5 separate regions of the Homo sapiens genome follow, and all the other regions are linked to region 4. The links come from fine-mapping of genetic effects on gene expression. A gene starts in region 4. Each other region holds a variant in brackets. All regions are shown on one strand. Distances are from middle to middle.

Region 1 (6,096 bases), 80 kb before region 4:
CAGCAGCTGGGGAGTGGATGAGGTAGTATTGCCTCTTGTAACACAACCCTCTCGGGTGCTAAATTAATCTCTGAAGATTTATGTGGTTGTGATGCTGTTGGTTTGTTTTGTTTTTAAAATAGTAAACTCTACTATCCACCGCTGTCAGGAGTGTAGTGCCAGGTCATCTTACCAGTTGTGTCTTACAGTTAAACAAGTTACTCCAGATAGCATAGACAAGGATCTGGCATCTTTCAAAAGTATTAGAATGCGATCAGAGGAAACCACACACACAAATCATTCAACTTAAAATCTACCATGAAATTGCTTGGCTCTTTTTCTTTTTTTAAATTCATAAGTCCCTGAAGATGTTGTATGTCTACCTTCTGTTTTTGAAGACATGTAGGACTACCTCTAGGATTAACTGATCTCTGTGTTTATTTATTTATTTTTTAAAGAAAGGTCAGCTGTCTGAACTACAAAAGAGGGGCTGTTAGTTTCCCAATCTTGTTAAGTTCTCCCTTGTGGCGGAAGCAGTTTGATTGACCATGAATTTCTGTTACTCTTTAGTAGTTTTGTAATAGATCGTTAATGCAGACTTCTAGGTTTGAAAGGTTAGCATCTCATTTTGAAGTTTAGAAATTCTATGTAGGGAAATTAGCTTATGGTCTTTGGAGATTATTATGCCGTGTTGTACCTTTAGTTATTGTCATAAATAGCTGATACTAAATGAATTTTGATTGATAGAGTAAAAAGTTAAACATATGAAGTTTCCCTTTAAGTCTCCTGTGTCGTTTATGAACAATAAATACCTTTAAGGGATTGTGTGAATGTGCATATTCATATAAGGTTAAATTAACAAAATATCTTTCAGAGAGAGTAAACTGAAAGTGTACACTCTTCTCCGTGCAGTTCTTAGTAGGTATGCCTGCCTCCCCATATGAATTGACTCTCTGTGCTTTTTTTCTCTTTATGGCCATTTTTGGTTCTTAGCTTCCATTCCCAGTGTAATGCAATCTAACACTTTCTGTGTTTTTTAAGAAGGGTTTGTCTCAGATTTCTTATGAACAAAAATATATGGTTCTCTCTTTTTTTTTTAAACTGTTCTTTACTTCATAATCAGAGTTGATATTCTTTTTTGATTTATTGATCTTTGGTTTCAAAATAATTTTACCAGTTTTTGGAGACTGGACAATTATTAGAACTTGAACAGAAATGTACTTCTATGTACCCACAAGTAGTTAGCATGATTACATCATAGCTACCACTTATTCAAAAATATAAAACCAAGGGTGCCCTCACCATATATCTCAGCAGTTATTGAAAGTAAACATTATTTTGAAAGTTAATCTCTTGTTGGATTCAGGTTTCCTGTGCATGTCTTGGTTGCTGCAACATAGAGGCATTTTTACACAGACATACCACTGTCATGATGTGAGTGTTGTTTTATCTCATGGGCCATAATTCTTTTCTGAGTAGTTTGTTTTATACATTCTTGTACCGGGGGCCCTAATAGCATACCTGGGAACCACTGGCGTAAGCCTCCTATATCTTTAAGACCCTCAATCTCTCGGTGTTCCTGTATAAGAGCTAGTAGTTGTCAAGAAGGAACGATTCCTTTTCTATTGGAAATTGGTGTTTGTTTCTTACATTTTATCCCTTATCCTTTTAGTTTTCATTACATTTTATTCCACTTTTCATTTCTAATTTACGTCCACCTCATTTGTCAAGGTTCAGTACTGTCACCTTCCTTTCTTAGTCTCCAAACCAAAAAGCTGTCATGTCTGCCTCCCTAGAACTCCATAGCATTTTGTGTTTCCTTTAAGAGAAGGTGTTACCATGTTTTGTCTTGTGTTGTGATTACTCGTCTAATAGTCCTTGCCAGATTGTAAGCTCCTTGAGGGCAAAGACTGAACCTTACCCCATTTCCTCTGCATTGCTTTAGCAGAACAAGGTTTCAGGGGACTTTCCCCCATCCCTATTATAATATCTCAGTGCATCCTCTGTACGTAATATGCTTCCCAAAATTAAAATTTGAAACTAGCCTTTCAGGAGGTCTGGAGGCTACTCTTTGAGAACTACCGTGTTTTCTAATATGTGTGTCCTTTGGATCCAGCTTACCACTTATATACAAATAACTATGCTGTATAATATCCAGGAAAGTTACTTCTTGGATCAGAACTTAATATTTTAAGGCTCACTCTGTTGTCATCTGATCAGAAGCCATGGTCTCTCTCATGAGAAAAATGTACATAATTCTCTGACACTCAGTTTTGTAGATAACTTCAGGGAGACCACAGATTTGTGTTCTACAGATACAGCCTTCTGTTCATATCTTTTGTTCTTTGTAGCCAACCATATCTTTCATGAATAGAGTAAGATTCCCTTTCTTCTTCTTGATTTGCTCTCAGGTTAGTCATTGTAACTCACTTTATCATTTAAATTGTGCATGGAAGTACTCGATGACAAGTGATGAGACCATTTATGCCCATATTCTTGGAACCCTGCAACTATGGAGAGTGTACTCTGGTCTCTTGGGAAGGGAAGGACTTTGTGGAAGAAGTGGTTCTTTTTTTTTTTTTTTTTTTTTTTTTTTTGAGACGGAGTCTCACTCTTTTGCCCAGGCTGGAGTTCAGTGGTACGATCTTGGCTCACTGCAACTTCCGCCTCCTGGGTTCAAGCGATTCTCCTGCCTCAGCCTCCCGAGTAGCTGGGACTACAGACACCCACCACTGTGCCTGGCTAATTTTTGTAGTTTTGGTAGAGATGGGGTTTCGCCTTACTGGCCAGGCTGGTTTCGAACTCCTGACCTCAGGTGATCTGCCCGCCTTGGCCTCCCAAAGTGCTGAGATTACAGGCATGAGCCACTGCGCCCAGCCAGAAGAGGTAGTTCTTTAGCTGTGCCTTGAAAGACTTTTTTATATACGAAGAAAATGAGAATTCTAGTGGAGGAAATAGTAAAACAGATATGTGTTCAGTAGATAATGTAGAAGTAGTCAGTCTGGTTGGTGGTTAGGTTGAAGAAAAATAACTAGAGAGGTTGAAGAGATGGTGTTGTGAGTCTTATGCTGTGTTGCCTATAGGAAATGAGAAGACACTTTAAAGCAGGAATTACTTAATTATTATAGTTTGTTTTTTTTGTGGTTAGTGTGAGTTTAGCAGCAGTTTGAGGCATTCTCTTACTCTTATTATTCAGTTAACTGTTGACTGTTGTGTCCTTCTAGGAACCTTGGGTTCTGAATGAAACAGTAGTGGAATATTTGGGGAACTAAGTGCTAAATTAATGGGTTCTGAATCTTATCAGACAAGGGGAGGGCTCAATGAGGACAAAGGTTGCATGCAACTGACTTGAAGGACAGGTGGAATACATTTTGTTGCAGGTCAGAGCAGAGGTATGGAGCTGGGAATGACTGTGGTGTAGTCCTAGGCTGAAGAGAGTAGAAGACGAGTGTACAAGAGGACAAGGAGGTACAGATGCCTTTGAAAATTGAGTCCCGGAGGCCTTGAGAACCAGCTGGAAGTCTCAGACAGTACTGATGATTGTGAGGGTTGGACCAGAGGTCTAGTGCAGCACATA[C/T]TTTTCTGCACATTCTGCTCTTTTTATCTTGGCTTTCTGAAATAAGCAACAAAGGTGATCATTTTTCTTGGTTTAGAGTTTGCTGCAAATGGTAGGTTTGCTTTATTTGTGATTTTTTAGAATAGGAATCTGGTTTGGAGGTTGACAAAATAAGTAATTCTCTCTTTTGTTATATTTTCTTTCAATCTTGGCTTTGATTTGGTGTAATAAGCTGGTTTCATCAAACTTATTATCAGCCTATAATGAGATACATGACATGGAGCAGCCTGCAAATAGGGAAAAGGTAATTTTCATTTAATTCATTGCAAACTTAGTTCTTGTTAGCTGTGACATGGGATTTTGATGAGTCAGTTGGTTGTCTGGTCACTGTTAATCACTCTGAATTTAACCCTTGTAAGGTTTATTTATAAGAGCAGGAGTTTCTAATTCTTTTTTGTTTGTTTTTGTGTGTGCCGTGAACTTCTTAATAAGTGAACCATGTGGACTACTTCTCAGAATAATGTTTAAAATGTATAAAGTAGGATTACAAAGGAAACCAGTGGTATAAAAATAGCTGTCATATTTAAAAACAAAGTTAATTATATATTTACTTATTTATGATATGATGCATGAAATAGAAGTAGATGTACTAGCTGTCATAATGAGCACAAGTAAGATGTTGAGATACTTGTAACAACTGTAAAGTAACATGAAAGTATATGTGATTTCTGTTTGTGATAATGTCACAGGTATATTGCTAAAGTTAATGTAGTTTGTTGTCTACAATCATAATTGAAGAACATGCTAAATTTCAGGTAAATGTGCATGAGATAAAGATGCAGTATTACCCACCCAAGTACAAATATCTTGGGTTCAGAACCTCTGACTTGGAGTATTTTGTCAGCTTGAAATGCTCGTTGTTATTTCTAAAATGTTCTTCCTTTGTCTCAAATTCACTTCATTGTCTTCTTAATCCTGGAAAACAGCTGTGAGCAGTTCATGCATAATGTGTTCATACCATTTTGTACTGTGATGTTGGAGCAGTATTTATTTTTTACAAAATGCTATACAGTTGCCTGTTTCCTTAAATGCAGTTTAGAAAATTATTACTAGGTTTTGGCTAGGCGCGGTGGCTCACGCCTGTAATCTCAGCACTTTGGGAGGCCGAGGCGGGCAGATCATGAGGTCAGGAGTTCGAGAGCAGCCTGGCCAATATGGTGAAATCCCCTTTCTACTAAAAATACAAAAATTAGCCGGGCGTGGTAGCACACGCCTGTAGTCCCAGCTACTCGGGAGGCTGAGGCAGGAGAATCACCTGAACCCAGGAGGCGGAGGTTGCAGTGAGCTGAGATCACGCCACTGCACTCCAGCCTGGGCGACAGAGTGAGACGCCGTCTTAAAAAAAAAAAAAAAAAAATTTGTTACTAGGTTGTATTATGTTACAAACATGGCACAAACCAAAGCCAGGATTATATCAGTGTAGAATTAATTGTATTGTTGATCTTTATTTAGAATTCAGTTAATCTAAAAATAGCCTAATGTAGTATGTTTCACAAAATTGGACACTGTTGTACTAAAACTCATCTGTTAAGCATGAATTTTAACAAAGATTCAATATTCTGAAAATGAAAGTTGAAGTATGGTATTCATTCCTGCACGACCACAGTCAGAGGGGAGTGGAAATCGGCATGTGTTAAAAGTGTGGCAGTGTGATTAAATGTCATTCTCGTGAGGCCAAGTGTGTATATACTTTTAATGTAGGTATTTAATATGCTCAACTTTCTCTTTAACTTACAAATGATTATTCTATCAAGTGTCATGTGTATAGTAACTGACAAAGAGTGACTAGTAATTGATCAGTTGAAGCTTAACTTCTATTGTTATTTGACTTCGTTCAAATTTTACTTATGGTGAAGTTTTTCTCAAAAAGTATTAATAATACTTAGTGAAGGGATGTGTTTTGTTCTTCCCTAGGACCTTAGAAATCATTTGTTTTGGAATCAGATTCTTCATCTGCCAAAGAAATGCACAGATGATGATGATGATGATTTTTTTTTTTTAGTTTAGCAGCATGGTTTAATTTGTATGCGCCTACGAAAAATCATTGTAATCATTAGTTGATCATTGCAGTAGTTCAAATAACCTGGTATAAACTGGGCTTTTATCTAGAAGCTTCAAGCAGTAACAAGATTTCACAAATTTCATATGCTGAGGAATGACTCCAAAATAAACCTTTTTCTTAAAATTTTAGAATCCCATCATTGATATAGTGCTTTTACTGTTTCGAAGGGATTTTCTCTGTGAACCCTGAAAACAACCCCACGAGGTAGGGCAGCTATTTTATTTTTACACATAAGAGGCCAAGCATGGTGGCTCATGCCTGTAATCCCAGCGCTTTGGGAGGCTGAGGCTGGCAGGACACCCAAGGTCAGGAGTTTGAGATCAGCCTGGCCAACATGGTGAAACCCCGTCTCTAGTAAAAATACAAAAATTAGCCAGGTGTGGTGGCGCAAGCCTGTAATCCCAGCTACTCCAGAGGCTGAGACAGGAGAATCGCTTGA
Region 2 (6,096 bases), 160 kb before region 4:
GGATTACAGGCAAGTGCCACCACACCTGGCTAATTTTTGTATTATTATTATTTTTTAATAGAGACGGGGTTTCACCATGTTGGCCATGCTGGTCTTGAACTCCTGACCTCAGGTGATCCGCCTGCCTCTGCCTCCCAAAGTGTTGGGATTACAGGCGTGAGCCACTGGGCCCAGCCATGTCCACTTGTATACTATCATACAGAGTAGCCCTTATTGATATTTTTAAACCTAAGTTTATCATATCACATATTTACATTTTTATACTCGCTTTCTTTAGGTTCATATTTAGGTGGTATTTATTTTTAACTATCCCTCTTATAATCTTACCCAATCATAGCTTTTTTTTTTTTTGAGATGGCGTCTTGCTCTGTCTCCCAGGCTGGAGTGCAGTGGCACGATCTCAGCTCACTGCAAGCTCCGCCTCCCGGGTTCAAGTGATTCTCCCACCTCAGCCTCCCAAGTAGCTGGGATGACAGGCGCGCACCACCATGCCCAGGCTAATTTTTGTATTTTTAGTGGAGATGGGGTTTCACTATGTTGGCCATGCTTGTCTCCAACTCCTGACCTCAAGTGATCCATCTGCCTTGGCCTCCCAAAATGTTGGGATTACAGGAGTGCACCACCATGCCCAGCCAGCCCCATCATAGCATTCTTGTATTTAGTGGTAAGTTTAACCCTTCTATATTTATTGGAATTACTCTTAAGACTTTTTTCTGCTATATTTTATATCTCCTATTTACTGTACATTGTTTTTGTTCTTTTCACAACAAAGTTTTCTTCTTCTGGTTTAAAAGTTATAAATACTGCCAGGTGCCATGGCTCATGCCTATAATCCCAGCACTTTGGGAGGCCGAACCAGGCGAATCACCTGAGGTCAGGAGTTTGAGACCAGCCTGGCCAACATGACAAAATCCTGTCTCTACTAAAAATATAAAAATTAGGCTGGGCTTGGTGGCTCACATCTGTAATCCCAGGACTTTGGGAGGCCAAGGCTGGTGGATCTCGAGGTCAAGAAATCAAGACCATCCTGCCAACATGGTGAAACCCTGTCTCTACTAAAAATACAAAAATTAGCTGGGCATGGTGGTGTGCACCTGTAGTCCCAACTACTCGGGAGGCTGAGGCAGGAGAATCCCTTGATCCCTGCAGAGGTTGCAGTGAGCCGAGATCACGCCACTGCACTCCAGCCTGGCGACAGAGCGAGAATCCATCTAAAAAAAAAAAAAAAAAAAAAAGACCAGGTGAGGTGGCTTATGCCTGTAATCCCAGCACTTTGGGAGGCCAAGGTGGGTGGATCACCTGAGGTCAGGAGTTCAAGACCAGCCTGACCAACATGGAGAAAGTCTCTACTAAAAACACAAAAAATTAGCTGGGCGTGGTGGCAGGTGCCTGTAGTCCCAGCTACTTGGGAGGCTGAGGCAGGAGAATGGTGTGAACCCGGGAGGCTGAGCCGAGATTGTGTCAGTGCACTCCAGCCTGGGTGACAGAGCTAGACTCCGTCTAAATTAAAAAAAAAAAAAATTTAACTGGCTGTGGTGGCAGGTGCCTGTAATCTCAGCTACTCAGGAGGAGGCTGAGGAAGAATCACTTGAACCTGGGAGGCAGAGGTTGTAGTGAGCCAACATCGCGCCACTGCACTCCAGCCTGGGCAACAGAGTAAGACTCCATCCCTAAATAAATAAATAAATAAATAAAATAGCTGGGCATGGTGGCTCATGCCTGTAATCCCAGCACTTTGGGAGGCCAAAGCAGGAAGATATCTTGAACCCAGGAGTTCAAAATCAGCCTGGTCAACACAGTGAGACTTTTGCTCTACAGAATAAAAATAAAAAAATTAGGAAGGTGTGGTGGTACATGCCTGTAGTCCCAGCTAATGGGGAGGCTGAGGCAGGAGGATCACCTGGGCCCAGGAGATCGAGGCTGCAGTGAGCCATGATTGTGCCAGAGAGAGAGCCTGTGTCAAAATAAAATAAATTAAAAAAAAAAAGTCAAAATACGCTGGGTATTGTGGTTCACAACACTTTGGGAGGCCAAGGTGGGCAGATCACCTGAGACCAGGAGTTGGAGACCAGCCTGGGCAACACAGTGGGACTCTGTCTCTACAAAAAACTGAAAAATTAGCTGGGTGTGATGGTGCCTGCCTGTAGTCCCAGCTGCTCAGGAGGCTGAGGTGGGAAGATTGCTTGAGACTGGGAGGTTGAGGCTTCAGTGGGCCATGATGGTGCCACTGCACTCCAGGCTAGGTGACACTGTGAGATGTTGCCTCAAAAATAAATAAACAAATAAACAAATAACAAAAAAACAAAATAAAATAAAAACACCACTCCAGATCTCAAACAAGTCTTTGACAAAAACAAAGACCAAACACCATTCACCGTCTTAGCTATCTGTCAGGAAATACCTCACCTGGAAAAGTAGTTCTAAATATGGGGTTTACATCCCTCAGTTTCCTTCCTTTCAGAAATCCTGGCTCGGTAATTCTTCACTACCTTGTTGGCTTTCCAATAATATCAAGCAGAGATCTTTAAAATATTTTTCCAATTTTACCAGCGTTGGTCAGAATTACATAGTTACCAATACCAGACGTCCAAATTCTTCCTCACTCCTACTTTCCCATGGGAAAAGCACTCTAA[G/T]AATCACGACTTGCTATGAAACAAAATGACAGTGGAAATGCTAACAGTGTAACAATTACCTAAGCACCAAAACAATGAACTGAAGTGCCATCCAAGGGAGATTCTACAAATAGAAGAACACAAGTGTAACATAGTTGAAAAAGCAACTCAAACACTTATAACAAAATATCCACCTCCCCCAAAGAGAAAAATCCTTTCTGAAAATTGAGGGATGTAAACTTTACTTGGGAATGCTTTACATTCAGTTTACAAATACCAGATGATAGTAACATACTAGCCAAGTACAGGTGGTTGTAAGAGAATGAAAATCTGTGGAATTGTATCACAGTTGTCTATTGTGGACTTTGTTCTCATGGTCAGCAGGGCCAGGTTGGCTGATTCACCACTAAGCCTCCGAGCACACCTTGAGAACCGCTACCCTATGAAGAAGTAGCATTCAAAATTCCTGAACCCAGGCTTTCTAGAATGACCTACACTAAAAGTTTCTATTTTGAGATTTCTATCATTCTCTGATTAGGTTACAATGGAATGGATTAGGTTTTACTGATTAGATAAATAAAAATACCCTTCTCAAATCCACCTTAATCCTCTCCCTGGGTCAGCTTGATTAGATTTTAAGTTTCACAAACCCCCAAAGTTTGATGATATTGTCTATTATGTATCCGCTTAACCAGATGAATTGAGAAGATTGCCAAGTTTTAGACATGATTTCCACATTGTCTTGATCAGACAACACTCAGCAAACAGCCTTAGACAATGTTTGGATAAATACTAATCCGTTTCCTTTACCTCTTCAAGTTTTGGTTTTCTCATCTTTTTTAAAATTAGTTTTTAATTTTGTTTAAATTATTATTTTTTTAGAGACAGAGTCTCTGTTGCCCAGGCTGGCAAGCAGTGGTGTCATCATGGCTCACTGCATCCTTGACCTCCAGGGCCTAAGCCAGTGAGAGTGGCAGGAGGCAGACAAATGCCTAGGCAGATAAGGGTGAGTCCCGGGTGAAACCCCACCTCCAAGCTGAAGACCGTTTAAAGCCTGAAGCCCAAGCTACAAGTTAAATCCTCCGACTGTATTGAGAACTTTCTTCCTGTTTGGTGTACTTTCCTCTGATTGGGCCCCACCCTTCACCTGTTTTACATATACCTACCCTTTCCTAATTGGTTTTTCTACACTGTTGTGCCCACCTTTGAGTGGTGTCTTTACTTGAACCTTTTTTGCATACTCACAAACCAGTCAGCACACACTCTCCATTCTAAGTCCATAAAGGGCCCCAGACCCAACCACCTGGGGGACTTGCCCGCTTTCAAGTAGGGTAGGGGAACCACCCCTCACATCCCCTCTGCTGAGAGCTTTCCTTTTGCTTAATAAATTCTACTCCACTCACTCTCCAGTGTCCATATTCCTAATTTTTCCTTTTTCTAGGTAAAGAACTCAGACCTAGCTGAGCTAAGGAGCAGAAAGACTGCAACGCCATCCTCCCACCTCAGCCTCCTGAGTAGCTGGGACCACGGGTATGCACCACCATGCCTGGCTAATTTTTTTAATTTTTAAATTGTTTTTGTAGAGATGGGGATCTCACTATGCTGCCCAAGCTGGTCTTGAACTCCTGAGCTCAAGCAATTGGGGATTACAGGCCATAAGCCACCATGCCCAGCCAGTTTTCTCATGGGAAATGGGAATAATAATTTTGTCCATGTCATAGATATTTTGGGAGTTTTAAATGAAATAATGACTATAAAAGTCTTTTTTGTTTGTTTGTTTGTTTGTTTTTGACAGAGTCTTGCTCTATCACCCAGGCTAGAGAGCAGTGGTGTGATCTCTGCTCACTGCAACCTCTGCCTCCCAGGTTCAAGAAATTCTCCTGCCTTAGCCTCCTCAGTAGCTGGAATTACAGGCATGCAGCACCACACCTGGCTAATTTTTTTGTATTTTTAGTAGAGGCAGGATTTTGCCACACCGGCAGGCTGGTCTTGAACTCCTGACCTCAAGTGATCTGCATGCCTTGGCATCCCAAAATGCTGGGATTACAGGCTAATTTTTGTACTTTTTAGTACAGAGTTCTGTCATGTTGCCCAGGCTGATCTCAGACTCCTGAGCTCAAGCGATCTGCCTGCCTCAGCCTCCCAAAGTGCTGGGATTACAGGCGTGAACCACCGCGCCAGGCAATTATAGAAGTCTTAACACGGTGTGTGGCACAGGTAAACATTTGCTAACAGGACAGTCTCTAGTGTTTGTTGGAGGCACTGCTCTGATAGGATTATTTGGGTGCTGAGCTGGTGCCTCAGGCCCTGGAAGGTAATTCTTTAAGGGAAATCTATGGATGAGTGTCAAGTGTTCTGTTGGGATTGCATCATTTGACTGGATGGGGAGGCAGCTGAAGGTTGGTTCCACGTGGCTGTGGCTAAACTGACTTTAGAATCTATACACCAGGCCTGGTGAGGTGGTTCACGCCTGTAATCCCAGCACTTTGGGAGGGCGAGGCGGGTGGATCACCTGAGGTCAGGAGTTCGAGACCAGCCTGGCCAACATAGTGAAACTCCATCTCTACTAAAAATACAAAAAATTAGCCTGGCATGGTGGCGGGTGCCTGTAATCCCAGCTACTCCGGAGGCTGAGGTAGGAGAATTGCCTCAACCCGGGAGGCGGAAGTTGAAGTGAGCCGAGGTCATGCCATTGCACTCCAGCCTGGGCAACAAGAGCAAAACTCCATCTCAAAAAAAAAAAAAAAGAAAAAAAAAGAAAAAGAAAAAAAGAAAAAAAGAATCTCTACACCTGAATAATAAAAGCTAAAGTTAAAACTAAGGAGTGGCTGGACACGGTGGCTCACGCCTGTGATCCCAGTACTTTGGGAGGCTGAGGCGGGCAGATCACTTGAGGTCAGGAGTTCGAGACCAGCCTGGCCAACATGGTGAAACCCCGTCTCTACTAAAAATACAAAAATCAGTTGGGTGTGGTAGCGCAGGCCTGTAATCCCAGCTACTAGGAATACTGAGGCAGGAGAATTGCTTGAACCCAGGGGGCTGAGGTCACGCCACTGTACTCTAGCCTGGGCGACAGAGCGAGGCTCTGGCTCAAAACAAACAAACAAACAAAACCTAAGGAGTTAGTCATGGATCTCAGAATGAAATCATGGAGCACAGAACGTGTGGTAAGGTTCTGAAAACTGAAATCTTTGTAACTTTCTCATGTGTGCTCATTTGCTCAATTTCCCCCTGCAGGTTTTCCTATTATAGTTACCAGCACTTTGCAATGTCCTGGCCCGATGGGGCTAAATGCTTTATCAGCTTTATTTCATTCAGTGCTATTCTATTAGACCCATGTTATAGGGGAGAAAATGGAGGCTCAGAGAGATTAAGTAAATGATTTCTTGTCTGGCTCAAGCGCTGGATTTCCGAATACAACATCTTATGGAGTTGTTGAATTTGAATTTTGGGAGGCCGAGGCAGTAGGATTGCTTGAGCCCAG
Region 3 (6,096 bases), 53 kb after region 4:
TGCGATCAAGGCAGGGTCTCAGCTGTTCCAGTCTCAGAAGGGCTGCCCACGTGACCATGTGTCTGGAGGGCAGATCCCCACTTCATCTGGCCAAGCTTTAGCGCATGGATTTGAGGCAGAAATTGAAGCCAGACACAAAGAATGGGGCCTGAGTTGGGAAGTTTTGCATACCACACTTCTGAGTCTGCATCTGTAGAAAGAGCGTGACAAGTCCACATTTGTGTTCCAGGAAGATCACTCTGGTGGTAGCAGGGAGGACAGACAGGAAAGGAGAGACGGGAGTCTCTGAGCCCCATGTGAGCCCCCAAAACCACCCAACAGGACTTTGGAGAAAGAGGAAATGGGGTGGGGGTGGGGTAGAATAACTGGGCAGGCCTTGTTGGAGGAAGTAGGACTTGAGGGGGCTCTTGAAGGATTTGTAGAGGGAGAGGGGAATGCCAGGCAGGGTGAACAGCATGGGCAAAGGTAGAGAGGTGGGAACCATTGGTAGCTAAGAAAGAGTGGGGACACTCTTCCCTTTCTGTGACCTGTCCTTCCCACCTCCTCTCTGTGGACCTTTTGAGCAGGGAGGGGGCCTGCTCTGAGACTGAGCTCAGCTGCATCTCTGGGTGTCTCTTGCTGAGGGAGGGGGCAGGCTGGGTGCAGCTTCGAAAGGTCCTTCCATTGTGTGTGAGGCCCAGCCAGGACAGCAGAGGCGGGTGCACAGAGCCCTTTGTCCGCCGAGTCACCCACCAAGCGCTCTGGCGGTCTCCACAGTCCTCACTGACCTTACACTCAAGGCCGTGCCATAGAGACAGGTTGTTCTGCCTTGGCTGGCTCTGATATCATAGCTGAGGGAGGGGACAGGGGCAGGGGGTGGACAGTGGTGGCCTTTAAGGCTGTCCAAGGGCTGACAAATTGCCTCTTGCCCTTGAGGTGCAACGAATCACCATTTCATTAAATTCTTTAACACCATGATCTATAAAATGATGGAAACTTCCAGTACCTGAGAATCCCAGAATAATGGAATCTTTCTAAGATCGTGGAATCTTTCATAACAGACTCTGTGGGAATCAGAATTCTATTCTATAGAATAACAGAATCTTAAAAAACCACAGACTCTTTTAATATCTTCCTTCTGGGGTTGTGGTGAGAACAAAATGAAATACTACATGGAAGGTGGGTGCAGTGGCTCACGCCTGTAATCTCAGCACTTTGGGAGGCCAAGGTGGTTGGATCCTGAGGTCAAGAGATCGAGACCATAGTGGCCAAAATGGTGAAACCCTGTCTCTACTAAAAATACAAAAAATTAGCTGGGCATGGTGGCGCCCACCTGTACTCTGAGCTACTAGGGAGGCTGAGGCAGGAGAAGCGCTTGAACCCGGGAGGCGGAGGTTGCAGTGAGCCGAGATTGCGCCACTGCACTCCAGCCTGGTGACAGAGTGAGACTCTGTCTCAAAAAGATGAAAAAAAGAGAGATACTATGTGGAATGTACATAGAATAGGCCTGGAACATTGTAAATGCTCCCTAAGTGTCAGCTTTTTTCCCCATTTTGAGGAAAACCAGGCCCAGAGAGGTGATGTGACTTGTCCAGGGACATGCAGCTAGGAGGTGGTGGCACAGAACATCAGTGGCCTGGAGGGAGCCCCAGGTGGCCTGAGGGCCTCTGACACTGAGTCCCCCATGGCCAAGCCAGCTGGTCTGTGTCTTAATTAAGGTCTCCAAGGTGGGGGTAAGGGTGGGAGGATGAGAGGTGGGGGTGAGGGTGGGAGGCAAGAAGAGGGGGCCAGGGCTCCACCAATCCCTGTGTAACCTCTCTGGGGCTCAGTTTCTCCCATTTTAAAAGGGAAATAGTATTTCCCTTCCTACTTCCACCACTGGGGAGTGGTAAGGCCGCCACTCTGGTCAGGCCTCCCTGACTGTGTGTTCCTGGGTAAAGGACATCATTTCTCTGGGCCCACATCTTCACTGGTGCAATGGGGAGAATAAGGACGGAATCACCATGAGGATTGACTTGAGGAACTAATATCTTTTGAGACAGTGTTAAACATTCGGATCCTAGCTCTGTGGCTCCACGGGTCGGTGATTTGGGGTAAGTCTCATAACCTTCGGGTACTTCAGTTTCCGAAGCTGCAAAATGGAAACAACAGGAATGCTCATTTAGATGAGATGGGTTAATACAAGTGGAGCGAGCACTTAGAACTGTTCCTGGCAAGTGGAAGTGTTTAGCAGGCATCCACGATCATTGTTATCACATAAGGCTTAGTCATTGTGAGCAATTATAATTAATGGTCAGTGAAGAGCTTGCAAAGTGCTGCACAATTGTGTGTGTGAGCACCTGTGTGTGCATGTGAGTGTGTGTGTGTGCTCGAGTGTGTACGATGGTGCTTATTAAAAACAGAGCCTGCGGCCCAGAGTTGAGCTGTGTGCCTGGAATAGCTGCTTCTCCTGGCGGCCTCCCCAGGGACTGGAGTGTAATGAGTGTTTGCAGAGCCCCCCGCCAGGCAGAGATGAGAGGCACCGAGGAGCCAGCGCTGGAGCCAGGCGG[C/T]GGCTGGGAGCCCAGTGTTATTATATTAATGAGAACCAGGGTGATGATTACTATTAACGAGATTAGTCACCAGGGGGCCTCCCCACTTCACCAGGCTCGTGCCTATGGCAGGCGAGGCAGGCAGGCATTCTCTACACCCACCACTCTTCTCTCTGTCTCAGGGGAAGGGTTGAGGATTCCCTGGTGCCAGGCACAGTGCCAATCCCCTTACAGCCTTGTCTCACTGCATCTTTCCAAGCCCCTGGGGTTAAATATTGGTGGTCCCACTTTACAGGTGAGAAAACTGAGGCTCAGCAAGGGCTCTGTCTGACCTGGGAGCACAGATATTTTTATTGCCCCTTCATGTGATCTGCAAACATTGACAGTGAACCAAGCCCTGGCACTTTACATGGGTTAATCTTTTAGTCTTCACGACAATGCCATGAGGAAGGTGCTCTTGTTAACTCCCTCTGCATGAGGAAACGGAGGCACACAGCAGTTAAGTAACTTGCCATCTGCATCACAATGTCTCCCACTTTCCAGCAAGCCCCTCTCTCTCCAGCAGTCAAGGTGAAAGTGTGGCTCCCAACCCTTGGTTATTCTCTATATAGCCAACCGTACCCACGGCTCTGTGATCAGATGCTTGTGGGCAGTTTTTCTGCTTGTCTCTTGTCCCCACAGGTCCCTCAGCCAGGCCACCTCTGGGCACAGACTCCTAGTGCCACCCGCCAGGCAGAGCTGAGGCTGCCACCTACACATTTATGCCACAAACATTATCCTGGCCCTTCTTGGGGCCAAATGTCAATCCTTTTAGATGCACTCTAAGAAGTTGGGTTCTCATTTAACTTTTAGTGGACAGCTACTCTGTCCAGCACTGTGCCAGGCTGGGGACACAACAGTGGGAGAGACAGACCTGACCCTGTCCTCATGGAGCTCCTAGTCTCATGGACAAACTAGTACATGGCATATACTTAGTGTCAGTTTTTCTGAGTGCTTCAGTGGAAGGACGGTGGTCTGTGGACTGTGCAGGAGGGAAGAGTGCGGTTGGAGTGAGGGAGGAGTGAGGCAAGGAAGCCCTCTCTCAGAAGGTGAATTTAAGATGAGATGTAAGGGTTGAGCAGGAGCTAGACAGTCACCAAAGGGAAGAGCATTTCCGGCAGAAGTACCTGCCTATGAGGAGATAAGACCCCCAGGGAAGTCCTGCCTGTCTAATCAGTGCACCATCAATGCTCAGGTGTCTCCTTGGGCCAACAATCATTCACTCAATCAATCATCACTTCTCAGTTAATATTTTCTCATTCAAATAGTTCATTTACTCACTCATTTTTTCATTCATTCATTCTGTATTTCCAAATGCCCATCCATTTCAGTCTTGGTGTTGGTCAGGGGGACTCAGAATTGAATCAGTTGCAGTCTCTGTCCTGACGTTGTTTCCAATCTAGGGGGGGAGATGAATCCTTCCTTACACATGACACCATGTCATCAATGAACATGAAGACTCTTCCTCCAGGCTGGGGAGGTGGTAGTCAAGAAAGGCTTCCCAGAATAGGGGCCATTTGAGCTGAGTCTTTTTTTTTTTGAGACAGAGTCTCGTTCTGTCGCCCAGGCTGAAGTGCAGTGGTGTGATCTCGGCTCACTACAGCCTCCGCCTCCAAGGTTCAAGCGATTCTTGTGCCTCAGCCTCCTGAGTAGCTGGGATTACAAGCACGCACACCACGCCCAGCTAATTTTTGTATTTTTAGTAGAGATGGGGTTTCATCATGTTGGCCAGGCTGGTCTCGAACTCCTGACCTCAAGTGATCAACCCGCCTCAGTCTCCCAAAGTGCTGGGATTACAGGTGTGAGCCACCTTGCCCGGCCTGAGCTGAGTCTTTACAAATGAACAGGCACTCAGGAGGTAGAAAGAGGGAGGTGGGCAGTGGTGCACAGCATGTGCAAAGATATGAAGAACCCCAAATGCCAGGATGTGGCAGAGACTGCTGGCTTTGCAATGATATCTGTTTTTCCTTTCATATCCATAACACATGGAAGCTTGGAAGAAAGACTACGTTTCCCAGCGTGCTTTGCAGCCAGGTGGGGCCATGTGACTAACGTGGCCAATAGGATGCGAGCAGAAGTGTAGGCTGTTTCCCTTTGATAGTGGTGTGCCTGCCCCGTCCCTTTTCCCCTACCATTGGCGGAAGGTGCAGGTGGTCCCATCTTGAACATGTGAATGAGGGCAACACGGAATGACAACAGCTTAACAAGACAGAAGGAACTTGGGTCCCCTATGCCAAGGAGCACCAGCCTTTAATGGTTGATATGTAAATTATTATATGAGGGATAAAGAAACTTCTCTCTTCTTTAAGCCAGAGTTATTTTGGGTCTCTGCTTTAGAAGCTCAACCTATATCCTAGCTAATAACCAGACTAAAGGCTATTATCTCCTAGGGCACAGGGAGCTGTCAGAGTTCTGTGGGGAGGGCAGTGACATTGTCAGATTTGCGTTTTTGGAAGCTCTCTCTGGCCACAGAATGCACGATGGGTTGGAGGGGAGAGAGACTGGAGGCCGAGAGACTAGAGAAGGGGTTGATGCTTTCAAATGGGGCAGAGGTACCCAAGCCTGACCCAGGGCAGGCCAGCTCTATTGGTGCCTGCTAACAGAGAGAAGGCTAGGTTCTCTACCCAGGCCTGAAGCCAAGCCTTGTGGGCTGCCTGCAGCCACTCTCTCTTCCCATTACTTCCAGAGCTTCCAGCCTTGAATACAACCCAGAGGCCCCTCTTGTGAAATCTGACCTTCAGCTGCCAGTAGAGCCCAGGACAGCCCCTTCTGGGGAGGGTTGGTCATGCAGGACTGAAGGCGGAAGGCAGGGGCTCTGGAGGATGGATTTGGGGAGGAGGGAGAGGTAGGTGGAACAGAGCCTATGGTGGGGAGGGGGCTGTGTAGGCGATGGTGATGGGGCAAGGACAGATGGGAGAAATAATGAAGAAGGGGACTGTGCTAGTCAGGTCTCTTCTAGTTTCGGTACCAGAAACCCAACCAGAATACATGAAAAATGGGCTGCACCGGCTTCACCCCTGGCAGGCATGGGATGGTATCGGCTCAGGAGCACCTGGATCAGCTGGGACTCTTACCCTCTCTACTCTGTTGGTTTCCTTCTCTTCTGTTCTTGAACTCCTGGGCACACATGATCCTCTGGCCTCAGCCTTTAGAGTAGCTGGGACCACAGGCGTGCACCATTATGCCTGGCTAATTAAAGAACTTTTTTTTTTGGTAGAGTCAGGGTCTTGTTGTGTAGCCCAGGCTGGTCTCCAACTCTTGGGCTCAAGTTATCCTCTTGCCATGGCCTCCCAAAGTGTTGAGATTATAGGCACGAGCCACCACACCCGGCCTAGGCTCTTTTCTAAAGCACACTCTGTCACTGGGTCTGGGAAGTCCTCCCTGATCTCACCCCGGTCCAACAGAGCTGGGTGCTCCCTCCTCTGGGCCCAACGTTCCTGCTATGGCCCTCTCTCCAGGTACATCTCACCCTGTGCTCCAGTGAGGGACCCGCATAACTATGTCCTCCTAGGCTGGGAGCCCTCGTGTGTGTACTGCCTGCCTTTAGTTA
Region 4 (6,096 bases):
GTGTGATCAGGATGCCGGCAGGACAGGACCAGGCCTGATCACCCAGAGGACATCAGGAAGACTTCCCAGAGGAGGCAGTGTGTATTCTAAAGGCCGGAGGGGGCTGTGACTATTGTGCCAGGAGGCGGCAGCAGCTGGTGCCTGTGGGTGAGGTTATGGTGCTATGAAGGGAGACCCTGAGTATGTGGGGATGTGGCTCCAATGCACAAGGAGGCCTGGGCAAGGGTGACTGTGCAGATGACCCATGTGCTTGAGGGCAGGAAATGTGTGCATCTGTGAACCCCAGGGAGACCTGGGACCCGGGGGGAGCAAGATGAGAAGGACCTTCAGGGGCCCAGACCTGTCTTAGTTCTGGCTGTGACCAGTGTCTTTGAAGAGCAGCAGGTGGCGCTCCTGGCCTGTCCAGACCAAAGATTCTCCACTGCCCCGCCCCCACCTCTTCCCCAGGATGTCAGGGAAGTGGAGTTGCTGCTTCCAGAAGTCTCAGAGCTGGCAGGAACCTCTGAAGATGGGCCATGCTCACTGCCCATCTTACTCATGGAAACCATCCTAATGGTCTCCCTGCTAGATAGTTCTCCGAGCCTTGAATACCTCTCAAGACAGGATACTTACTGCCTCTTAGAATTGCCACTGCTGTCTGTGGCCAGCTGACATCTGGCTCCTCATAATCCCCACCCTAACCCTGCTGGCCCTTTGGGAGCGCCTCAGGGTTGGTATGTTCCTGGGATCTGCTCAGCATCTCTGAAGGATGATGTTATCCCTACATCTGAGTCCCTTCCTTTGTAAGCTTCATTCCCAGCCACCTTCATTGAACTCCATTACGATGGCAGGGAAGAGCTCATGTAATCCTCACAACCTGGTACCTGGCCTGGCACACAGCAGGCACCCAATTTATGCTTGCTAAATGAATGAATGAATGAACTCTGCGTGGTCATTATCTCTATATTACAGTTGGGAAATTGAGGCTCAGAGAGGTTAAGTCACACATCCAACACAATACAGCTCATAACTGGCAGAACTGGGATTTGAACCCAGATACTTGGCCGACCCAGAGCCAGAGCTCTTCAATTCCAAGCTGTGCTACCTCAACAGAAACCAGTTTCCCACCTATTGCACCCCATCAGCCTCCCTGCCCATCTCCCCAAGGTGCCAGTCAAATTTGGATCGAGCATTGATGTCATGCCAAAAGATTTGAGAATTGAATTTTCAGAGGCTGGGACCTCAGAATTCCTAGTTCGAAAGTCTCCCTGTCTTCCCTGTCCAGGATCCCTGTCAAAGGGTGGTGAGCTTGCCTTTCATACCCTTTAGGGACTGGGCTCTCCCTCCCTCCTGGGGAGCCCCTTCTAATTTATCTCTACTTTATGTTGAGTTGACCTTTGTCCCCTGGTCCTCCTCCCAAGGGCCCTGCAGGACAAGTACAGTTACCCCCAACACCAAAAACCCATGGCTGGTCCCCCAGAGTCTCTTCCTCAAGGCCTGCCCCTCCATTCATCCTGGTTTTGGTTCCCCTTTCCTTGAGGGAATTGTTCCAGTTTCAACTCAATTTCGTTCCCCTATTTTCTTTTCTTTTCTTTTTTTTTTTTTTTTTGTTTTTGAGAAGGAGTCTCGCTCTGTCGCCCAGGCTGGAGTGCAGTGGCGCGATCTCGGCTCACTGCAAGCTCCGCCTCCCGGGTTCATGCCATTCTCCTGCCTCACCCTCCTGGTAGCTGGGACTACAGGCGCCCGCCACCACGCCCGGCTAATTTTTTTGTATTGTTAGTAGAGACGGGGTTTCACCATGTTGGCCAGGATCTCCTGACCTCGTGATCCACCCGCCTCGGCCTCCCAACGTGGTGGGATTACAGGCGTGAGCCACCACGACCGGCCTGATTTCATTCCTATTTTCTAATGGCAGGCTCTAAGCTGGGTGCTGGGACACAGGGGCCAGAGAGGAGAGTAACTGAGGGTAGAGACGTCCAGCCAGCTGTCATCAGCAAATAACCTCTTCTTGCTGGCTCTCAGCTTCCCCACCTAAGAAGTGAAGATATTGACAGACCGACCTTATGGGGTTCCTGAGAAATGATATAACACATGAAAGCGCTGGGCACCTGGCATGTGGTCAGGGTTCCAGAAATGTTTCACTCTCCCCTATCTTGCCCCAAAACACTTGGTTTTGAGCCCCAGTAAATGGGAAACACATTCATTGATTCAGCAAATTTGGATTGAGCATCGATGTCATGCCGAGCTCTGTGCTGGTGCTGGGGACATAGCAGTGAACAAGACAGACACAAAACCCTGCCCCCGCTGGAGCTAACACGCCATTGGAGACTTGGAGAAGTAAGAACAGCATGGGGTATGCCGCTGGGGATGAAGGTGAAGGGGGAAAAGGCACCGTGACCACACAGGGTAGAAAGACCACCAGCGCTAGAGACTGCCACTCAGAGATGTACTTTTCTCGCCATCCTGCACTGGAGGGGGTGGTCCCATTCAACCATGGGGGGTCTGAGTCTCAGAGAACTGGGGGCCTTGCTGGAGGCGCACAGCTGGTGTGGAAGCAGCTGCGCTCAGGTCTGCGTGGCTTTTCCTCTGCAGATCCACAGTGACAGGGCCCAGAAGTGACCACCCCCATGGTCCCCTGGGGAGACCGAGGCCCAGAGAGGGCCGGGCCCTGATCTGAGGTCACACAGCCCCTGGGTGTCCTGGAGGCATGAAAGCCCGTGGTCTTGGATGACCTCTGGCCCACTGGGTGGACTGGCTGAGTGTGTGAGGGTGACGATGGGAGTCCAGGAAGAGACACGTGCGTGGAGCCACAGGGGGAGGCTGTAGATGAAAACGCCCATGCGACCCCTCCGCTCGGCGACTTCAGGGAGCCAGGCCCGGGCCCTGGTATCCCACGCGGGACCCTTCCCTTCTACCTAGCACGGCGGCCGCGGAGGTGCGTCCGGCGGGCTCCGCGACCTCCAGCCCCGGGATCGGCGAGGCCGGCTGCTCACTCAGGTGTCCGGGTGCCCACTCGGCAGCGCGGGGCTCCCTCTGGGTGGGGGCGGGGGCTGGGACTGGGGTCAGAGGGCGCGGAGCCCCGCGGGGGGCGCACTGGGGCCCGCCCCGCCCCGGGCCCCTCCTCCGTTCCGCCCGCGCTGGGGGCGGCCCGGCGGCGGCGGCGGCGGCGCACGCTTCCTGCGGGCGCGGCCGCTGTGGGCGCGGAGCTGCGAGGCGGAGCCGGGCGGCCGAGCCGGGAGCCCGCGAGCCTAGAGCGCGTCGGTCCAGCCGCCGGGCCGCGCCGCCGCCAAGCAGCCGCCCCGCGCGCCGCGCCTCGGGAACAAAGGCGCCCGCCCGCCGCCCGCCGCCCGCGCCCGCGCCGCCGCCATGAAGCCGGGGCCGCCGCACCGTGCCGGGGCCGCCCACGGGGCCGGCGCCGGGGCCGGGGCCGCGGCCGGGCCCGGGGCCCGCGGGCTGCTCCTGCCACCGCTGCTGCTGCTGCTGCTGGCGGGGCGCGCCGCGGGGGTGAGTGACACGCGCCCGGATCCCCGCCACGGCTCCCCGGGGCCGCCCCCCGCGCGGGGTGCCGGTCCCCGCCCGCGACCCCCCCTCCGGGACCCCGCTCCCTCCCCCCCGGCTGCTTCCCCCGGGGCCGCGGTCCCTGCCACCCCTCGACCCTCCCCCGAGCGCCCCTTTCTGCACCCTGCTCCCCCCCCTCCGGAATCTCCCCCTAGCTGGCATCCGCGGGGAGAGGCCGCCCCCGCCGCTGGTCATCTTCGGGGGGCGCATCTCTCCTTCCTTTTGGGACCCCTCCCCAGAGGGAATCCCGGGAGGGAACCCGATCGCGGGTCCTCAGCCCTGTTCCCCCACCTCCCAGTGGCTCCGGGAACTGTCTCCCCGGGGACGAAGCGGGACCCCTGCGCTGGCCTGGGAGGCGCGAGAAGGACCCGGCGGCGGGCTGGGGGTCGCCGTCCCGGCTGGGTGTGTCTTGGGGTGGGAGTGAGCCTGGCTTTTGCCTCGTGGGTGTGCCCAGACCATGGCCACTTTTTGGGAATCGGATCGGTTCCCCTTCCGAGGGGAGGGTGTGCATTTGGTTCTTCCCAGGGTCGCGGCAGCCGGCCAGGGCAGTGGGCCCGGGAAGGGGAGGTGGAGGTGGAGGGTGACTTGGTGAAGGTGACCTGAGGGGGGAGTGAGGGTAACCCTGTGTGTGGGCGTGTGTGGGCGTGTGTGGCCAACTCAGTGAGGGGTGCGGGGACCTGTGGGGCGTGTGCAGGTGAAGGATGTGTCTGCCACATGGGTGGATGCCAGCGTGCCCTCCCGTCCGTGGTCGTGGGAGGGTGACCCATTGTGCATGATGTGTGCCTGTGCCTGGCTGGGCCACTGTTGGCTATGGCCGTGTGTGGCTGCAGTGGGTGAGGGTGTGTGTGTGAAAGACCTCTGGTGGGCGTGTGCTTGGACCCATGAATGTGTGTGAGTGCACATAGCAGCGTGTGCATGCAGGTGCATGGGGGACCCTGGACATAGGACGAGGACCCCTGAGGGGAACCAAGCATGTGCAGGTGGAGGTGATGGTATGTATGAGGTGACCCTTGAGTGTCCCTTTGAGTGACCGTAGCAGCCATGCTTGGTCCCAGCTCCGTCAGGGATGGCAGAGAAAGGAAGGACCTCATCCCCCTTTGAGGGATCCAGGCCCCAGATGAGTTCTTGTTGGACAAGTGTCCAGGTTCTGGCTCAGGCGGGCTGGGGATTTCTAGGTCCAGCCTCCCAGGTTGGTTCCAGGAGCTATGCTGTCCTGCATCCCCCAGGCTGAAAAGGACCCAGGCCTCTCAAGCAACACTGGGTGCCCAGCCGCCCTCTGCAAGTTCCTTCCCTTTCCCAGCCTCAGTGGGCCAGTCAGTAAGACAGGAGGAGGACAGGCAGGGGCTCCAAGCTTGCTTCTTGGATGGACAGGCCCCTCCTCAGCCTTCCCCATCTAGGGGGCTGTCAGCTGGAGGGAGGGGAAGTGTTGAGGGCTGACCTGTGTGAAGTGCCTGCTGGCCAGGATGTCTCATTCCCAGCTCTCCCCTAAGTGGGGTGAGAGGAAGAGGTCCCTGGGAGGGATAGAGACCCAGCACACCCTAGCAGCTGGGGTCGCCTTCTCAGCCAAATTTCTGAAAGACCATCCTTAAAATCAAAGGCTTGGGAATCACACAACCCTGGGTTCCAATCCTGCTACCCCCGCCGATTCGTGGCATGGTTTGGGCAGGTCCTCTTACTTCTCTGACCCTTGGTTGTCCCTCTGTGAAATGGGGCTAATGACCCCTTCCTCAGAGGGCAAAAATTCAATGGGATGACTGACGAGTGTCCTGAGAAGGAGCTCAGGAGTCATGTGGTGTGCACATGAATGAAAGGGGCTCAGGACAGAAAGCTTTAGACTTGGAGGCCAGGTGGAGCGCTGGGCAGGCCACTTTCCTTGCTGAATAAGGCTAATAATTCATACTCCACGAGGTGGTGGAAGGACTTAGTGAGAGCATTTAATAGCCTCATGCACAGTAGGGCCTCGCAACACGGGTGACCTGAATCTGAGAGGTGTGGCTCAGACCCAGTGTTGGGTGGCAGATCAAGCAGACCCTGGGAGTCTGAGCCCAGAGGCTGAAATGGTGGGTGGGGCCTGGGGGAGGGCAGGTACTGGGGCGCCTGGTGAGGTGGTGGGAAGTGGAGTGTCCTCCAGGCCTCACATCTTCCCATGGGTCAAGCTGTCAAGGAGGGGCATCATCCCTCTTGTCCTCATCTGACTTGGGAGGAAAAGGGTTAATGGGTGGTACCTGGTTGCCGGGGTTCCGCACCAGAGGGAGAGGGCAGTGCCTGCAGCAGGAGGGACTGAGGTTAGATCAGAAGAGCCCCAGCCAGGGAAGCTCCAGGGGTGGCCTTGGTAGATGAGCGGTGGCTGGCACAGGGCAGGGAAGGGCAGGGACATGATGACCCTTGGGTCACCTGCCAGCCTTTGTGTGTGTGTGTGTGTGTGTGTGTGTGTCTTCGTGTCTTTCAGCATGGGGATAGCAGGGAGAGCAGGCCTCATTCACACTGCAGATGGTGAATTGCAGTGTGTGTGTGTGTGTGTGTTTGTGTGTCTGTGTCTGTCTCCTGGCATCTCCTTTG
Region 5 (6,096 bases), 81 kb after region 4:
GTGGCTCGCACCTGTAATCTTAGTACTTTGGGAGGCCGAGGGGGGCGGATCACGAGGTCAAGAGATCGAGACCATCCTGGCCAACATAGTGAAACCCCGTCTGTGCTAAAAATACAAAAATTAGCTGGGTGTGTGGCTTGTGCCTGTAGTCCCAGCTACTCGGGAGGCTGAGGCAGGAGAATTGCTTGAACCTGGCAGGTGGAGGTTGCAGTGAGCCGAGATGCCGCCACTGCACTCCAGCCTGGTAACAGAGTGAGAGTCCGTCTCAAAAAAAAAAAAAAAAAGTTATCAAACATCTTTATTTGTATCTGATGAGAAGCATGGTTTCAAAATCAGAGCCCTCTGATTCTGGAAGTCCATGGTCAAGATTCCTCTTTCTCTCACGTCCAGTCCATTGGAAGTCCCGTCAGCTCTACCTCTAAAGCAGATCCTGATCACGCCCACAGCTCTCTAGCTAGCACGCTGTTATACCATATTTCACAAGGGCTCTCTTGACCCAATTTTGAGATCTTGGCGAAAAACTCTCAATTCCTCTTTGCGGGCACTTTGCTCAGCCTGCACCCCAACCCCTTTCCTTACTGGGCTCTAACACTCTTGGGTCACAACAATACACACAACTTCCAGGAATTATTTGCTAAACATCAAGGGATGAATACTTCTTCCTTGGGTCTGTGAAATCACTCAAAATTCCCAACCCACAGGAAGCCCCTACACCTGCTAACCCCACTCCACTTGCCATAGAGAAGCTGCCTCCTACATTCCAGCTTGCTGTTCCCCTGTCCTGGGTGCAACCAGGGGGTTGCATGTAGGGACACGGCCCCGCATGGCAACTTTCTCCCACTTGATGCTGTAAGTAATAGAGTTCTGCTTTTCATCTCATCAGAGGTCAGTGTGTCCGTCCTACCATCATCAGACCCTAATGTTATAACAGTAAACCCCTCCCCACCAGCTTCAGTCTGTCATCTCCAGCTTGAAGTCTTCAAATAGCCCCCTCTCTCCCTCCTTTCTATTACAGCCTGCTAGACTTCATCTGTCATAGAGCCCAAGTCATAAATCACATCCTTCCCTTCCCTGAATAAGAGGCTCTTAGCATTGAAATCAGACTGAAACCCAAACTTCTTCCTATGGCTTAAAAGGTCCTGTATGGCTTTGCTTCTGCCAATCTCTCTGACCCCATCCACTATTCCACTCTTGTTCAGTCTCACAGTCCTAGTTCTTAGAACATCTTAGAACACAGTAGGCACTCATAAATCTTCGATAAGTGTCAGGTAAACAGAAACCACTCTAGGTACATCAGACAAAGTGATTTAATTTAGGGAATTGGTTATAGAAACGTTGGAAGGACCAGTGGAGTGAAAAAGAAATGTGATGTCATTTTGGGCTCACAAGCCTGTACTCACCATCAATGCTGCTTGACTATTGTCACTGCCGCTGATAAAAGTTAGAAGCTTGGACTCTCTCTGATGTTAGTTCCAGAATCTCGCATGGATACATCCCACTGGCAGAACCCAGTCGAAATCCAACTCGAAGGATATCTGGGAAATGTAATTTTTTTTTATTTTTGAGACAGACTCTCACTCTGTCACCCGGGCTGGAGTGCAGTAGTGCGATCTCGGCTCACTGCAACCTCTGCCTCCCGGGTTCAAGCGATTCTCCTGCCTCAGCCTCCCGAGTAGCTGGGATTATAGGGATGCACCACCATGGCCGGCTAAGTTTTGTATTTTTAGTAGAGGTGGGGTTTCACCATTTTGGTCAGGCTGGTCTCGAACTCCTGACCTCGTGATCTGCCTGCCTCGGCCTCCCAAAATGCTGGGATTACAGGTGTGAGCCACTGTGCCTGGCCGGGAGATGCAATTTTTAAACTTCTAGGGCTGGTGATTCCAGGAGGAATGTAGAAGGCCAGGAATGGGGTATGGGTGTTTGGCACGGTAAGAAAGGCCTTTGAATGGCCCTGACTGCAGACCTCATGGGAATTTTGTCATGTGCCCTCTTTTCTGCCCTGGCTCCGCTTGTCCATGTTTTTGGCCATAAAGTGGCTTGGCCGGGGCCCATCATGCTGCACATCTTGGCCAGTATGCCTCACCTTCAGACTCCATGAACCTTGCTGGGGTCAACAGCTATGGGGAGAACAGCTTCCATTTCCCCCACTCTAGGCCTCATGCACTGCAGAACCAAAATTAGTTCTTCCTGTTGAACCCAGAACCTCATCAGGCTGCTCATGTAAATGAAATTTGAACAATTGTGGCCGCTAACCTGTGACCATGGAACTTAAATCCAGCTCAGGTTGCTGATCAGAACAGATGCCACAGCAACCATTCCGTGCTTCCTCTTACCTTCCCATCCCTCCAATCTATCCAAATTTCCCCCTCCTACTCCAGAAGCCAGGAATGAAGGTTATTCCAAAGAGTTGTCTAGATCCAGGGGCACAGACAGCTCCATGCCTAGAGTTTGGAGGGGTTAAGGTGTAGGCTGAGCAAAGTGCCCACAAGGAGGAATTGAGAGGTTTTAGCCAGGATCTCAAAACTGGGTCAAGACAGCACTTGTGAAATATGATATTACAGCATGTCAGCTAGAGAGGCCCTTCAGGTCCCTATATAGTCAATCTTTTTGGGCCAGGGATGTCAAGTCCAGATCTTGGAAGAAGAGTATGGACAGTCAGTCTTCCAGGCCAGTCAAGTGGTTCTCCATCTTTACAGAGAATCAGCCCTCCAGAGCCATGTATAGAGAGTTCTTTGGCTTCACAGTCAGAGTGTCCTCCAGAAATGGGATTGGATAATCTGGAGCCAGGAGGGCAGGACAGTGCAAAACCGGTGAGGAAGGGTCTTCCAGAAACAGGTTGCAGAATTCCAAAACTAGGAGCAGAAAGTCCTCTGGAGCCATGGAGTTTTCCCTAGAGCCAACAATGTTGTGGGACTATAAATGTCTCTGGAACATTTTCCAGAGCCAAGGACAGAGATATTTCCAGAGCCAGATACAGCAAAATTTTTTGCTGATCAA[CAG/G]TCATAGTGTTTTCTAGAGCTAGAAATAGAACCTCTTGAAGATGTAGAACAATCCATTTTTTTGCTATAAAGGATGGCATCTCTTCCAGTGCTGAGGGACACTGCCCTTCCTCCATCAAAGGCTGGAAAAGGCTGTAGGGCACTGTGCTGTGGGAGCCTCCAGTGACAATGAAGTTAATGCAGTTGATTTGTCCTTATAGATATCACCCACTTGGCCCTTTCTGCAAGAGATCCTGAACCTATGATCACTTCAAGATCCATACTCATGCAGAGACCTCATTAAAACATACTCTAGCCTGTAATCCCAACACTTTAGGAGGCGGAGGTGGGTAGATCACTTGAGGTCAGGAGTTCAAGACCAGCCTGGCCAACATGGTGAAACCGTGTCTCTACTAAAAATACAAAAAATTAGCTGGGCATTGTGGCAGACACTGGTAATCCCATCTACTTGGGAGGCTGAGGCAGGAGAATCGCTTGAACCTGGGAGTGGAGGTTGCAGTGAGCCAAGATCATGCCATTGCACTCCAGCCTGGGCAGCAGAATGAGAATCCATCTCAAAATAAAAATAAAAATAAAAACACACTCTCCTGTGTCTCCTTCCGAGGACCCTCTACTCAGAGAACTTGGGTGGTGGTGCCTCACTCAGAAAATATGCCCAAGCCTAGCTGGTTCTCTTCTATACCCTCAGATGGGGCATAACCCTTTGACTCCTACTGCTTTTAGAGGAGCGCTTCCACACAACAGGGCAGGTACATGAAGCACTGATGTGCAGAAGATTCTAGGCCCTCTTTTGTTTTCATCAAGTAGCAGATTCACCTCTTCTTTTAGTGATTATATTGGCAAATCACTCTGATGCCCACAAGTTCTAAATAAACCACCTGAGCAGTCCTAGAGTCAACACATTGCTATGCCAAGAACATGGGCCTTGGAACCTGACAGGCCTGGGTTCAATTCAGTAACACTGTGTGGTCTTGGAGGAGATACTTTCTCTCTCTGGACCTTTCAGATAGGATTAACAATAGCCATCCTGCAGGGCTGTCGTGAATGTTTAATGTAACAGTATGTGAAGGGCCTACATGTGCCCTGGCTAGAGGAGGTTCTAGTCACTGTTCAGTTGCAAGACAGACCGGATTTGGGAAAGTGCAGTGAGGGGGAAACTGGGTGCCTAAAAAGACTCTGGTTCTGCTGGTCAACCCAACTGTGTGACTCTGAGCAGTCACTTGCCTTCTCTGGCCCTCAGTTTCCTCATATGTCAAACCAAAGGTTGAATAAGAGGATTCTAAGGGCATTGCCAGCTCTGACATCCTGAAGGTTCCTTAATTGGAAGATCTGAGTTGATTCTTTTGACATTTAAGAAGCCACTCAATTGTCCTGTCTTGATTCATTGGGAGAGGACATCTGTAACCACTGCATCAGGGATTTCCGTGAGAGTTTGACGGTATTCATGTGGTATTATGACAAAAATCCAGGACTCAGCTGGGCATGGTGGCTGATGCCTGTAATCCCAGCACTCTGGGAGGCCGAGGCAGGTGGTTCACTTGAGGTCAGGAGTTTGAGACCAGCCTGGCCAACATGGCAAAACCCCATCTCTACTAAAAATACAAAAATTAGCCGGGCTTGGTGGCACCTACCTGTAATCCCAGCTACTCGCGAGGCTGAGGCAGGAGAATTGCTTGAACCTGGGAGGCAGAAGTTTCAGTGAGCTGAGATCATGTCATTTCACTCCAGCCTGGGTGACAAGAGTGAGACTCTGTCTCAAAAATAATAATAATAATAATAAAAATAAAAACCCAGGACTCTTGTCCCACCATCTACTTTGTTTCATGTTTTTCCTCGAGAGAGTGAATAACAAGTACGTGTGACAAATGAGAAGTCAAGACACCACTCTGTAATGAGTGAAGCAAACACCGGTATCCCAAAGCAGGGCTATGCCACACTGGAGTCCTCACCAGCCCTCTCCATCCTCCTCTAACACCCATAATAATGCCATTACTATAGCTGATTGATTGGATAGTTACATGTGCCAGGCAACAAACCTTATTTAATTCTCATAACAACCCAATGATTGCACTGTAATGACCCCGCTTACCAGAAAATGGGCCTCATCAGTCTTCAGAAATCTGACCCAACAGATAGGCAACTTTTCCTCCCTGCTGAGGGGTGATAGGAAGGGCAGACATGGTGAGCAGGGGGGCAGTCCCAGCTCCTAGGTGGTGGCTACGACATGACTAAAGAGATGGGAAGCAGGTGCATGGAGGTTGGAAAGGAAGTGCAGAGGCTGGGAGGGGTGGGTGGAGGCTGGGGTAAGGGTAATGGGGAGGGGGCTGATGGGGGTTTGGATTTGTGGAAGCGTACTTGGGATGAAGCTCTGTGTTGAGTGCTGGGAACGGAGGTGAATCACAGCCTCTGTGTGTGTGTGTGTGTGTGTGTGTGTGTGTGTGTGTGTAGAGGGTGGGGAGATGTGAAAAGAGATAGACATCTTTTCAATGCAGCATGATTCTTGAAACGAAAGTTGCATACACAAGCTGACACAAATATCATATGGAAGGAGAGCGGTGATCCTATCTGGCTGCCAGAGAAGCCCTCAGAGCCTCCCAGGTGAGTTGGTGCCATCTCCTCAGTCACCTGAACTATGGCTCCACGTCCTTTACACCTCCTCCTGAGTTTGGGTCTCTCCATCTCTACTCCAGCTCGGGTAGCCTTAGTCCCCCCTGCCCTGACTTTCCCCAGTCCCTGCAATGACTGGTCTCCTAGTCCCCTCCAGCCCATCCTCCACACAGCTGCAAGAGTGGAGATCTTCCTAAAATGCAAACCTAATCATAGCCCTCTCCCCTTCCATCCCCCAACTGCCTGAGAATGTGGTCCAAGATCCCTTAGCACGACATTCAAGCCCTTTGGGATCTTGTTCCTGCTTCCCCTTTCAGCTTTACTTTAAACTCCTCCTCCTCTCCAACACCCCGAACCCCACCATCTAATTTCCTGCCATAGTGCCTCGAGTGTTCCTTGCTTTTTACTGCCTCCAGTCTTTGCGCAGGCTGTCCCCTCTGCTGAGAATCCCTTCCCCACCGTTCCTCATCTGGCTCTTTCAGGTCCTGGC

Alleles and levels. Positions count from the first base shown, and alleles are read on the strand shown. Sizes are in standard deviations (SD) of each study's normalised expression. Not every link is listed here.
With allele T in place of C in region 3, the expression in pancreas of the gene that starts at base 3,174 in region 4 is lower (small effect, 0.30 SD a copy in GTEx).
In carriers of allele G in region 5, the expression in tibial artery of the gene that starts at base 3,174 in region 4 tends to be higher than with CAG alone (large effect, 0.82 SD a copy in GTEx).

Evidence for each region. PIP is the estimated chance that this variant, and not a neighbour inherited with it, causes the effect.
Region 1: its variant is fine-mapped to the expression of SDC3 in whole blood (INTERVAL, PIP above 0.99).
Region 2: its variant is fine-mapped to the expression of SDC3 in monocytes (TOPMed, PIP above 0.99).
Region 3: its variant is fine-mapped to the expression of SDC3 in pancreas (GTEx, PIP 0.95).
Region 5: its variant is fine-mapped to the expression of SDC3 in tibial artery (GTEx, PIP above 0.99). The same link has a PIP of 0.9 or more in aorta.

Annotation. Positions count from the first base shown.
Region 1 is chr1:30,986,052-30,992,147 of GRCh38, reverse strand. The region is part of intron 7 of PUM1 (pumilio RNA binding family member 1); the gene reads left to right. Among named protein-coding and RNA genes, the nearest start is that of SNORD103C, 21 kb to the right of the region's middle. RefSeq lists an enhancer at 6,017-6,096. The variant C/T (reference allele first, on the strand shown) is at 3,557.
Region 2 is chr1:31,070,139-31,076,234 of GRCh38, reverse strand. No RefSeq gene overlaps it. Among named protein-coding and RNA genes, the nearest start is that of PUM1, 7.5 kb to the right of the region's middle. The variant G/T (reference allele first, on the strand shown) is at 2,634.
Region 3 is chr1:30,852,811-30,858,906 of GRCh38, reverse strand. It overlaps LOC400748 (a long non-coding RNA gene), which reads right to left and starts at 727. Exons shown (of 2, transcript NR_188385.1): 1 at 541-727; 2 at 1-190. RefSeq lists a silencer at 2,311-2,605. The variant C/T (reference allele first, on the strand shown) is at 2,529.
Region 4 is chr1:30,905,836-30,911,931 of GRCh38, reverse strand. SDC3 (syndecan 3) reads left to right here and starts at 3,174. Exons shown (of 5, transcript NM_014654.4): 1 at 3,174-3,483. The coding sequence starts at 3,346. RefSeq lists a silencer at 3,130-3,219.
Region 5 is chr1:30,825,187-30,831,282 of GRCh38, reverse strand. LINC01778 (long intergenic non-protein coding RNA 1778) reads right to left here. Exons shown (of 3, transcript NR_146732.1): 2 at 5,089-5,152. Among named protein-coding and RNA genes, the nearest start is that of LINC01778, 3.6 kb to the right of the region's middle. The variant CAG/G (reference allele first, on the strand shown) is at 2,998.